2 separate regions of the Homo sapiens genome follow, and region 2 is linked to region 1. Evidence: fine-mapped expression QTL. A gene starts in region 1. The other region holds a variant in brackets. All regions are shown on one strand. Distances are from middle to middle.

Region 1 (5,380 bases):
GTCTGAGGAAGGGAGAAAAAGTCTTTGAAGTGGCTACCAGGATCCTTTGCAGATCTCTGGGATGTCATTCACTCATGCTTCTATGCTGGGTGACTCCTACCATCATCACATTCTTCCAATTCTCCCAGTAGGGTATGCAGTAGTCATGTAGGCAGAGCCTTCTGAGCTACAGCAAACTACAAAATTAAGATATTTATTAATGATTTTCAAACCAAAAACAATTTGCCTCAATTACTAGACATTTTAAAATTAAAAAATACAGAAATGTTTCTAAATTATTCCAGTTCTTCATCTTCCATATATTGTCTCACCTTTCCTGAAAGTTGCCTCCTTCTTAGACCTGAAAAACTCAAGGAGGGAGTAGGTCATGGGCTAAACATTTAGGCTAATTCTCTACATGAAATTGATAATATAAATGATTATTGAAAAAATTCAAAGGAAAGGATCATTTCTTCTGTAAACATCAACCCAACCCAAGAAAAACTATTTGGGATTTAAATCAGGGTTTCTCAACCACAGCACAACTGATATTTTGGGTTGACTAATTTTTGGTAGAAGGAGGCTGTTCTGTGCATTGTAGCATGTTCAGCAGTGTCTCTGACCTGCAACGCCTAGATGCTAGTAGCACCGCCCTCCTAGTTGTGACAACCGAGAACATCTTTAAACATTGCCAAATGTTTCCTGGGGGTGCAGTCACCCCTGGTTGAGAATTATAGGACTAAATTGTCCAGAAATAGGTTTCTCTACAAGTAAAGTAAAATTGAGTATTGGAGTTGCTTTTATCTGGTCTTCTTGATCAGGTGAATGGCTAAATGAAAAAAGCAGTTTGTCTATTTTGATGCCCCACTGACTATGTCTATCTGTTCAGATCATCCTGTTCTACATTTGTTCTTAGATCCCATTTGATTGCCAAAAACAGGGACTTCCTTACTTCATTCTTATGGTTCTGGGATTCCTGTTCATTTGCTGTTTTATAATGTTTTTGACTGTATAGATATTTAGTGATCCCTCTGATTTTCCATAGTCTTTGAGGTCTAGGTAATTTCTTAGACCTTCGGAAGGCTGCTGGTGTGGTACTAAAATCTCCATTCCTCTCTTCTATGTTATCTCTTCCAACTTTAGACCTAAACTGAGCTCAAATAGCAAGTTGGAGAGGCTGGAGTTGCTGGCTGATTTGATCAGTATGTGGACACATAACTTAGGAAGCAAAACTGTTGGCTATGAGATTACATATGTGATTATGAAAAGGAATCTTGTAATCACAAATTCTTCTGACGTATGTACAGTGACTGCAAAACAGCAAATAATTTGTTTTGGGAAGGATTTTATTGGCTGTTTGAAGTGAGGAGTATCTCTACTATACAAAATATTTAAACCAAATTGTTATGTCCTATAATGTTCAACAAAGCACTCTGCAAACATCAGTTCTGGAAAAAAAAAAAACGTATCCTCCAAGGCAGGATTATATGCACTTCTGGGAGTTGTAAACCCATGCAGGCTCCAGAAATATTTGCCTTCCAAGGGCTGGAAACTTCTGAATTAACAACAAATAATCAGTGAGTGTGACAAAGAGTTAAAGTACACAGACTTTACTTTCTCAAAGTTTATGATGTAGTAAAGAAGTTTAAGATGGAGACCTGAAATTGCAAACTGGTGGCCAGTAGGCTAAATCGGGACCATGGATTTGTTTTGTTTGGCTTGCATGTAGTTGGCCTCCAGAATGTCTAACAGAGTGAGAGGAAGGGAGCGGGGTGGGGGGCGGGCAGGAGACAGGCAAAGAGAGAGAAAAATAGAAAGAAGTTGCTAAACAGATATAATTGAGATTTTCACATAAAAATCTAAATTTCCAGCTTTGCTTGAAAAATCAGAATATCTGCCAACACTGGGTCCTTATTCCCACATTTCCCTATGGTAACAGTTGGCTGGAATGAAATAGCAGTGACCCCTTTGGTCTCTGGAACTAGACACTCACTCTCTGGTCTCTTCCCCCACTTCCCCTTCACTCCTTTACTAGCCCTCTGTCACCATTTCAGATGGCCACCCCTAATGCAGAGACTTCTGGACATTTATTTAGTTTCTTCTCCACAGAAATAAACTTCTAGAGCCTGGAGCAAAATAGTGGCTGCGCCATTTGTGTGTCAGATGAGATGACCCTGGCTCGGGCCATGGAGGTGGCAATTGAGGTGTGAGAAATGGTCAGATTTAGGATAAATTTTGAAGAAAGAGTCAGTAGAATTTCTGATGGATTGGATTAGGGTGTCAAAGAGCATTCCAAAATGACCCCGATTTTGATTTTTACTTATTTTAAAAAGAAAACCTATAATAGAACATTGGAGAGCCAGTATTGACCTTTTCAAATAAAAACAAAATTATTCAAAAGCTTTTTCTTACTAGTACTATTCAAATCGGGTACCCTATGTGGTACCAATATTATATTCTAGGAAATACTGACGGTTTTGGAAATTTGGAGGAAAAAGCATCGAGAAGAGCTCCAATTACTTAGAAAAGAGAGTCCAGGAGATGGGGTGGTGTATATAAGCCTATGGATGGTGTCTCTGCAACTCAGTGGCCCCGCCTGTCCAGGGGCTGGGTCCCCACGGGATCTCCCTCCCCACAAGGAGGTGGAGAGGCTATGTGTCTTGAACAACTGGGGTTGCGATCCAGTGTATGGGCAGTCCCACTCCTGGAACTCCAGGGTGGGCACTCGCTCCATTTCCACAGGCCCTCAAGGGTTCCAGGATTGCCCCGTGGGAGGGGTTTTAGTGCTGCATCTAGTAAGAAGCTGTAAGATGCTCAGAAACATGTTTTGAAGCTACTTTGCACAGAAAGAAGACTCTTCATTCAGATTTGTATTACAGATCAATAAAAGTAGCTAAGTCGTATCTGAAGATGTTTTTGTTTACACTTTGTATGTGACAGAAAACCTCCAGTTGTCTGTGTCAAGGACAATTACTTAATTTTATTACAATGTATACTGATTTGGTTAGTGGAAGCTTCTAGCGCCTACTGTGGTGGTGGTGGGAGCTATCTGATTCCCATTCCCAGGCCTGGCCATCGACGCGAAGGCCTCCAGCTGATCGGAAGTCGGCGTTGGCCGGCGCGGAGCCCGGCGCGGAGGCTTCTTTCAGCCGCCCGGGCAAGACACCCCTCCCTCGGTCCCGCAGCGGTCACTCCGCCTCTGGCGCGCATGCGCCGACCCCAGCGGGCGTCCTCCCGGGCTCCCTCTCCCTCCCTCCCTCATCCGGGTCCTGGGCGAGCGGGCGCCGTGCGCGTGTCCCGCGGCCGAGCTGCTAATAAAGTTGCAGCGAGGAGAAGCGCAGCGACGGCGTCGGGAGAGCGCGCCTAGCCGGCTCGCGAGTGAGTGAGGGTCCCCGGCGCGCGCGGGCGAGGGGAACTGGGGGCTGCAGGCTCTGCCCCGGCGGACTCGGGCCGAGGCGGGGGCGTTCGGCCGCGGACGGAGCGGAAACGACCCAGGGCCTGTCGGGCGGGAGGTAGGCCGAGTCCTGGCCTGCCGGGGTCCCGGCTGGCGGACACGGTGCGGCCCAGCGGCTGCGGAGGCCTCGCTGGCTGCCCGGGGCGTCCTGAGGCGGGGCCGGGGCTGGCCCTCGTCCCAGCCCCGCTGTTACCGCCCAGACTTTGGAGGGAGGCGTCTGGGACGCCCTGGAGGGGACCCCCTGACCCCGCGCTGTCCTGGGGAGCGGTTTGCTTTCCTAACTCATCGGATGTACCACCCTGGATACACACCCTTGATAGGACTGCGGTGCTCGGCCGGGCAGCCTGGGCTGCTGCACTGCGAAGCTGTCCAATGGCTTGATGAATCCGTGCCGCCGTCGCTTTGTGTTTCAAAGATAAGGATCCGCGCTTATCGGTGGGAATTACACTCTGGGCAGTTGTGACCGGCTACTGCAATCAGCTGGTAGTTAGACCTGGTTTCTGCCACTTGCCATGTCAGTTTTCACCACTGCAAGGATTTCTTCTACTTCATGTAAACTTCTCTGTGCTGCAAAGAGAATGCCAAAGCAGCGTCTTTTTGCCTTCACCATATTCAGCCGCTGGCCGGGTCCTATACTTCAATATCAGGGCTCAAATTAATATTCCAGTCTCTTCCCCTCCCCTTTTCCCCTCTCCTCCTTTCAGCTGCTGTTACTACGTGGAGTTTGGAGCCTAAGCTTTGAAAACTCCCATGTGGCGCGCCCGTCTTAAGTCTGAGCATGCTCAGTAGCCAAAACAGATTTTTGGTTGCAGAACTCGGGCGAGGATACTTGGGGTATTTGGACGTTTGCCGGCTTCCCAACAGAATGTTCCGGTTCTGGTGGTGATGGCATTGGAGAATGGGGCTTAGGCAAGCCTGTAGGTGAGGAATGGCTGAACACCCTGAGCCAGATGTTTATCTTGATTGTAAAGACAATGTTTCCTGACCAGCTGGAGCTTTGGGGGGGGGGGGGGGGTGTTGCGGGGGGAGGGAGCAATTTTGGTTGCTTGTGCATTTAAATGGGTGTGGCGCTAAGTATATCTTGTTTACCTTATCTTTCTGTGGAAAAGTTTTGATGTCTAGGTTTGTCACATCATGCCTGTTGCCTAGCACTACCAAAAGGGTTGTTATCTAGCAGCAAAGATTGAATAGGTGGAGGTCGTGGCTTGGCCTCACAGAAGTTGAGAGGAAAGGGTACTTGGGTTGCGTTTTTGAAAATTCGTATTTAAAACTAGAGTACTTGAATTTCCTTAGAGTACCTGAATTGCCCAGAGTGAATTAGTTTTTAATTTTAATTTGAAAGACAAAAGATTGAAAACCTTAGTCCCAGTAGGTTTAGTAACATTCCAAATAGCTTACAATTTCTGCTAGATGCCAATGCAGTAGTATCCATTGTGGGGAAAACAGTACCTACATTCAGTGTGACAGTTTCACATTTATGGATCCAAATATCATTATGAAATTAGTGTTCCAAATTTAAGGAGCTATTTGCAGATGTATAACAAATTATTTTAGTCTTTTATTCCTTTGGTAACTATTAATATTTTTTTCTCTACAGTGAAAATTGTAAAAATGCAAAACTTAGACAATTTAACAAAACTTAACCTTCATAAAGGTTGTAGATACTATGTTTAGATTTATAAAGTTTAATTTTGATGATTATTTGTGTGATTGTTCCTATACAGCTTCCTTTCCTTCCCTTTCCACATTGTTGCTCCCTCAGTCTTTTTTACATTACTGCTGTTAATTTACCCATGTATCTTTGTTAAAAATACCTTATTCATCATTTTGTGCTTCCATTCCTTTCAGATCATAGCTGAAATAAGCAAGAAAAGTTAGATTAACCTTCTCAACTGACTTTACTCTCAGGTTTTAAAGGCATCCACATGATATGGTCTAGTTAAAAGG
Region 2 (5,380 bases), 38 kb before region 1:
CTCAAGTGATCCCACCCGCCTCAGCCTCCCAAAGTGCTGGGATTACAGGCTTGAGCCACTGTGCCCGGCCTGTTCTATTATTTTTATAAGTAAAAAAAAGAAATAAATTACCCATAATTCTACCATTTATTGTTAATATTTTTCTCTACATCCTATCAGTTATACACACACACACACACACACACACACAGACATACACATATTTTATTGGTTTGTTCCTTTTGTTTTTTTCTGAGATGGAGTCTACCTCTGGTGCCCAGGCTGGAGTGCAGTGGTGCAATCTCAGCTCACTACAACCTCCACCTCCCAGGTTCAAGCAATCCTCCTGCCTCAGCCTCCCAAGTAGCTTGGATTACAGGTTGCCTGGGCTAATTTTTGTATTTTTAGTAGAGACAGGGTTTCACCATGTTGGCCAGGCTGGTCTCAAACTCGTGATCTCAAGTGATCCACCCGCCTCAGCCTCCCAAAGTGCTGGGATTACAGGCTTGAGCCACCGCGCCCGGCCTGTTCTATTATTTTTATAAGTAAAAAAGAAGAAATAAATTACCCATAATTCTACCATTTCTTGTTAATATTTTTCTGTACATCCTATCAGTTATACACACGCACATACACACACACACATACACACAGACATATACATATTTTCTTGGTTTATTCCTTTTTTTTTTTTCTTTTTTGAGATGGAGTCTCACTCTGGTGCCCAGGCTGGAGTGCAGTGGCACAATCTTGGCTCACTACAACCTCCACCTCCCAAGTTCAAGCAATTTTCCTGCCTCACACTCCTGAGTAGCTGGGATTACAGGCGTGCACAACCATGCCTGGGCTAATTTTTGTATTTTTAGTAGAGACAGGGTTTCACCATGTTGGCCAGGCTGGTCTCAAATAGTTCCTTTTTTTAAAGTAGTCATTTGGTAGGAGAATTTAATTCCAATAGTATTAATATTTAATTTTTCCAAAGAAGCTTAAACCTATATTCCTGTAATCAGTAATGTCCTAAATGAAACTTTTGTTGGCACTCCTCTATGTAAACATCATTCAAAAGCTTTCACTCCCTCCTATCTTTCTTAATACTTAATGACTATTACCACTATCCCCAGTCACATTATCATCATTGGTTTGAGATTTAATCATACACCTTACAGTGTTCATGTTCCCAAATGTTTTTTAACTCCTCGTCTTACTTTAATTTGCATGCTTCATTTTGTAATTTAAATTTAACCCACCTAGAGTACTTAGTACTTTTTACCTAGAAAACACTAGTGTACTTTCTAAGTCCTGGTACAGCGAGAAACATGGTTTTTACATAAGAATGATAACTTGGCTGGACATACAATTCTTGGAATATAGTTCTCTTTTCTGGATGTCTGGTATCATTGTTTCACTGTCTTCTAATTTTCACTGTTGTTGATGAGAAGTTTCGTACCAATCTGATTCATTTTCCTTCATAAGTAAACTTTCTCTTCACCTGGAAAAGTGTTGAACTTTCTCTTTAATCTCAGATTTAAGAAATTTCACCAGGAGATGACGAGTTTGGGGCTTTTTGTGCAGTTTGGAATTTGATTTGCAGCCATTTAGTTCTTAAAATGTAAATTTTTCTACATTTAAAGTTATCTTGCATTGTTTCTTTAATATTTTTCTTCTTCTGTGCCTTTTGCCTTAAGGATCTCCTGTTATTTATTTATCAGACCTCCCAGACCTACTTATTATGAATCTTATCTTGTACTCATTATTTGCATTTATTTGTGTATTTGCTTTTGGTTGTTGTGGATATTTTTTGCCTTTTGTAAGTGTGTGGGTGAGAGATGTTTCCTTTATTTGATTTTCCAGAACACAAATTCCATTTTAATCAGTAATTGTTCATTTCCTGTTCCTTGGTTAATTAAACAAAATTGCAGTTTTTACATCATAACTTCCTTAAAATATTCCATTTTAGAGACCTCTTGTTGTTCTTCCATTAGAACTGCCTCCATAGGTGTAATCAGTGCCTGTTGGGGACATGGCTTCCCTCCTTAAAATAGCCTGTGAACTTTTTTTCTCCAAAACATTGAGAGTTTCCTCTCCTGTTAAATTATCTCCTGCTATTTAGTATCGTTGAGGAAAAGTCTAATACAGGCCTGATTTTTGTTCTTTTTTGGGGATCCAGTTTTTTTCTCCAGTGCCTAGTAAGCACTCAGAAAGCAGTGCCTACGATTGGGTGGCTCATGGGGCAGCTTCTCTCTTTATTAGAAAAAGAGATATCTTACAAGTGGTTGCCTCCACTGAGATCAGTTGGAAACTCCCCATTATCTCATTTATGTCCCCATTTTCTCCCTGCAGCCCAAACAATCAGCCTTTGGACTTTATCTAGGCTGTCACAGATGGAGAGTCCCCCTGATGTCCGGAATCATTGCCCAACAGTCTGGTGTCTAATGTTCTAATGAAATGTCATATTTCATCATTTGTTTGCATGGATATGTCTGTGAGAAAATGGTTTTGGGGGAGGAGAAATGATTCAGTATAATAGTTAAACTGCTTAATTGCAAACAATATAAACTCTGTTATTTTATTTGATAGTTATTGGGAAGCTCCAAGAAGGGCTGGACAAATTAGAGAAGCAGGCTTAGAAAATGGGTAGGAACTAATGGAGGTGGGATGGTAGGGAACTCCACTATGAAAACAGTCTGATTATGACATGTTGCCTGTTCTGCTGTTCCCAGACACTCACCGTGCTGCTGCTGGACTTTGAACTTGGCTACTGCCACCATAAATAGTCACTGACTGTACCTGAATCTTTGTGCCACTGCCTGGCCTCATATGCAGCAGGCAGAGTATAATTATTCCCCATTTGGGCTTTCTCAGTGGCAAGGGGGCTCAGTCTCTCTCAAAGACATGCAGAATAAAGAAGTCTCCCCCAAAGAAGGGGGTTTTATATTCTGGGCAGCTAAAAATTGGCATGTGTTATCTAGGCAAAC[G/A]TCAGTAGACTTCTGATTTCTATCACTAAGTAGCAGCCTTCGATTCTGCTGGAGATTGTGATACATCCCAAAAGATGACGAGGCAGAGGTTGTCGCTGCCCTGCTCATCCTCTCTGCACTCACCCCTACCAGCAGAGGTGATTCTTTCCAACACCTGCAGCTCTCTGCCAGCTGCAGAAGCACACTTGACCTCTCCCCGGGACAAGCAGGAAGAGCCAGATACCTGATGCCCCTTGATTCAGTTCTCATCCAACAATTCGATATGGCCATGATGAATGAATACCATAGCTTCCGTGTCCCACAGCTGGGGTAACTCTGGGGTGTGTACTACATTGTTTCCCAGCAAGATTAGTCCCAGCTGTCCACAGTGAGAAGTGGCATGATAAGACACCCTTTCTTACCTGTCTCACTTCTGCACACCCCTACTTGTAGGCCTGCAGATCTCCTGCCAACTAAGCTACTGGCACTTGAATACTTGCCTTAGGGTCTGCTCTTAGATTTGCTCAAACTAACACAGTTGGTGAAGCCCTGTTGAGTAGTCAAGAGTACTTGGAATAAAAGGACAAGGCAGAAGAGTTCCTGATCTTATTCTCACTTCCCACTTAAAGTTTTTGAAGAAGTGGATTATCCTGAAATTCTACCCTGCGTAAGCCCTTTGACCCAGTCTTTTCCCTCGTAGTTGTTTATCCTACAAAAGGACTTACACTCATGTGCAAAAGTAACACAAAATGATGTTCTTTGTGGCTTTGGTCGTGACAGAAAATAAATTGGATGCACCTAAATGCCCATCAATGAAGTTAAATAAATTACAGTGCACCCCTACAAGGTAATACAAAGCAGCGATTAACAATGATGCTACCGATTTCTAGTAACTAATAGGGAATGAGGCCCAAAATATATTGTTAAGAGAGAAAACCATATCGCAAAGGAGCATTATAGTTTTATTTCGCCAACAGATATTTCAATACATATTTCCTGAGTGTCTACTATGTGCCAGGCTTTCACTGTCCTGTTTGTAAAAATTTCATCTATTCTATTGCCTGAACTGTGTTTTGGCAAACACAGTTTGGAAAATTGTGTCTCTTCCAAAAGTATTCAAAGAAAAGGAGAGTAAGCTTGATGGTAACTTTTGAAAACTGCTTACAGTTAACAGTGTGAATATCTTATAGAAGCATTTTTCTCCATTTTTTCATAAATGACCTAATTTGAAGATAAACATTGAATATGTGTATGTATGTGTGTGTGTGTCTGTGTGTGTGTGTGTGTGTAGTTGGGGGGCAGTGGTAGAGAGATAGATTTTCTGACTGTAATAAAACTTAAATCACCTTGTGCCTTCCGCACTATTTGAATTTTACCCTGAGGATGAATCACTTTCATAATACAAAAAACATACTAGTTCAGGCCAGGTGCAGTGGCTAACCCCTGTAATCCCAGCACTTTGGGAGGGAGGCCAAGGCGGGTGGATCACTCGAGGTCAGGAGTTTGAGACCAGCCTGGCCATCATTGCGAAACCCTGTCTCTACCAAAAGCACAAAAATTAGCCGCGCATGCTGGTGCGTGTCTGTAATCTCAGCTGCTCAGGAGGCTGCAGCAGGAGAATGGCTTGAACCCAGGAGGCCAAGGCTGCAGTGAGCTGAGATCGCGCCACTGCACTCCAGCCTGGGTGGCAGAGTGAGACTGTCTCAAAAACAAAAACAAACTAGTTCATTAAAAAAGCTTCACAAACACACACACACACACACACAGTTTTTCTCTATAACAGAATTCTGTCTTCAGTGACTTGCTACTCTCTGGAAGCTTTGCCCTTTCTTGTGCACTGCCAGATGCCTCAAGGTATCCTTTGAACTGTCTGCCCCACCAGGAAGCCATATTCAACCACCTGATCTGTTGGTTTTCTTTTTCCAGGACCCTAACAATTCTCTCTTCCAAAGACATTCCAAGAAGATGAGGAAGAATATAGAGGAGTGTTTTAGAATCGTCTGAGTTCCTAGCTTGAATACCTTAATAACAGCTTTAAGAAATGTTTTTCTTCATAAAAGCCTTGAGTTGAAGAAAAACATGCGCTGAAATAATTTCCTAAGCCCCACCCTGTGCATGACTGGCGTAAGGAATCGCTCATTGTAAAGCTATTGGTTATTCTAACTCCTTCCGCAAATTAATTTACCTCAGGAAGCCATGTTCCTCCATAAATGGCGGGAAACAATGGGGTCTTTTATATTCCCAGTAGTATGGTGCTCATTAGTTAAATGCTGACTTTGTTGGGCTCTGGAATAGAACAAAATATCCTAAAGCAAGGTCATGACTGTAGCAACTTGGGAAGAAAGGGGACCATGACACCTGTGTCTGAGCCCTGGTAGGGAAGGAGCCAGGCTGACTGGTCTAGGGCAGGAGGGATGCTGCCCAGGTATTCTCCTCCTCTTCTCTAT

Direction of the effects. Positions count from the first base shown, and alleles are read on the strand shown. Sizes are in standard deviations (SD) of each study's normalised expression.
For the expression in tibial artery of the gene that starts at base 3,240 in region 1, allele G in region 2 goes with a lower level than allele A (small effect, 0.28 SD a copy in GTEx).

Evidence for each region. PIP is the estimated chance that this variant, and not a neighbour inherited with it, causes the effect. A credible set is the group of variants that fine-mapping cannot tell apart.
Region 2: its variant is the best candidate, but not a certain one, in a credible set for the expression of SMAD5 in tibial artery (GTEx, PIP 0.76).

The regions. Positions count from the first base shown.
Region 1 is chr5:136,129,606-136,134,985 of GRCh38, forward strand. SMAD5 (SMAD family member 5) reads left to right here and starts at 3,240. Exons shown (of 8, transcript NM_005903.7): 1 at 3,240-3,357. SMAD5-AS1 (SMAD5 antisense RNA 1) reads right to left here and starts at 5,285. Exons shown (of 2, transcript NR_026763.1): 1 at 3,745-5,285; 2 at 1-176. RefSeq lists enhancers at 2,504-2,563, 2,594-2,643 and a silencer at 2,954-3,593.
Region 2 is chr5:136,092,025-136,097,404 of GRCh38, forward strand. No RefSeq gene overlaps it. Among named protein-coding and RNA genes, the nearest start is that of SMAD5, 38 kb to the right of the region's middle. The variant G/A (reference allele first, on the strand shown) is at 2,955.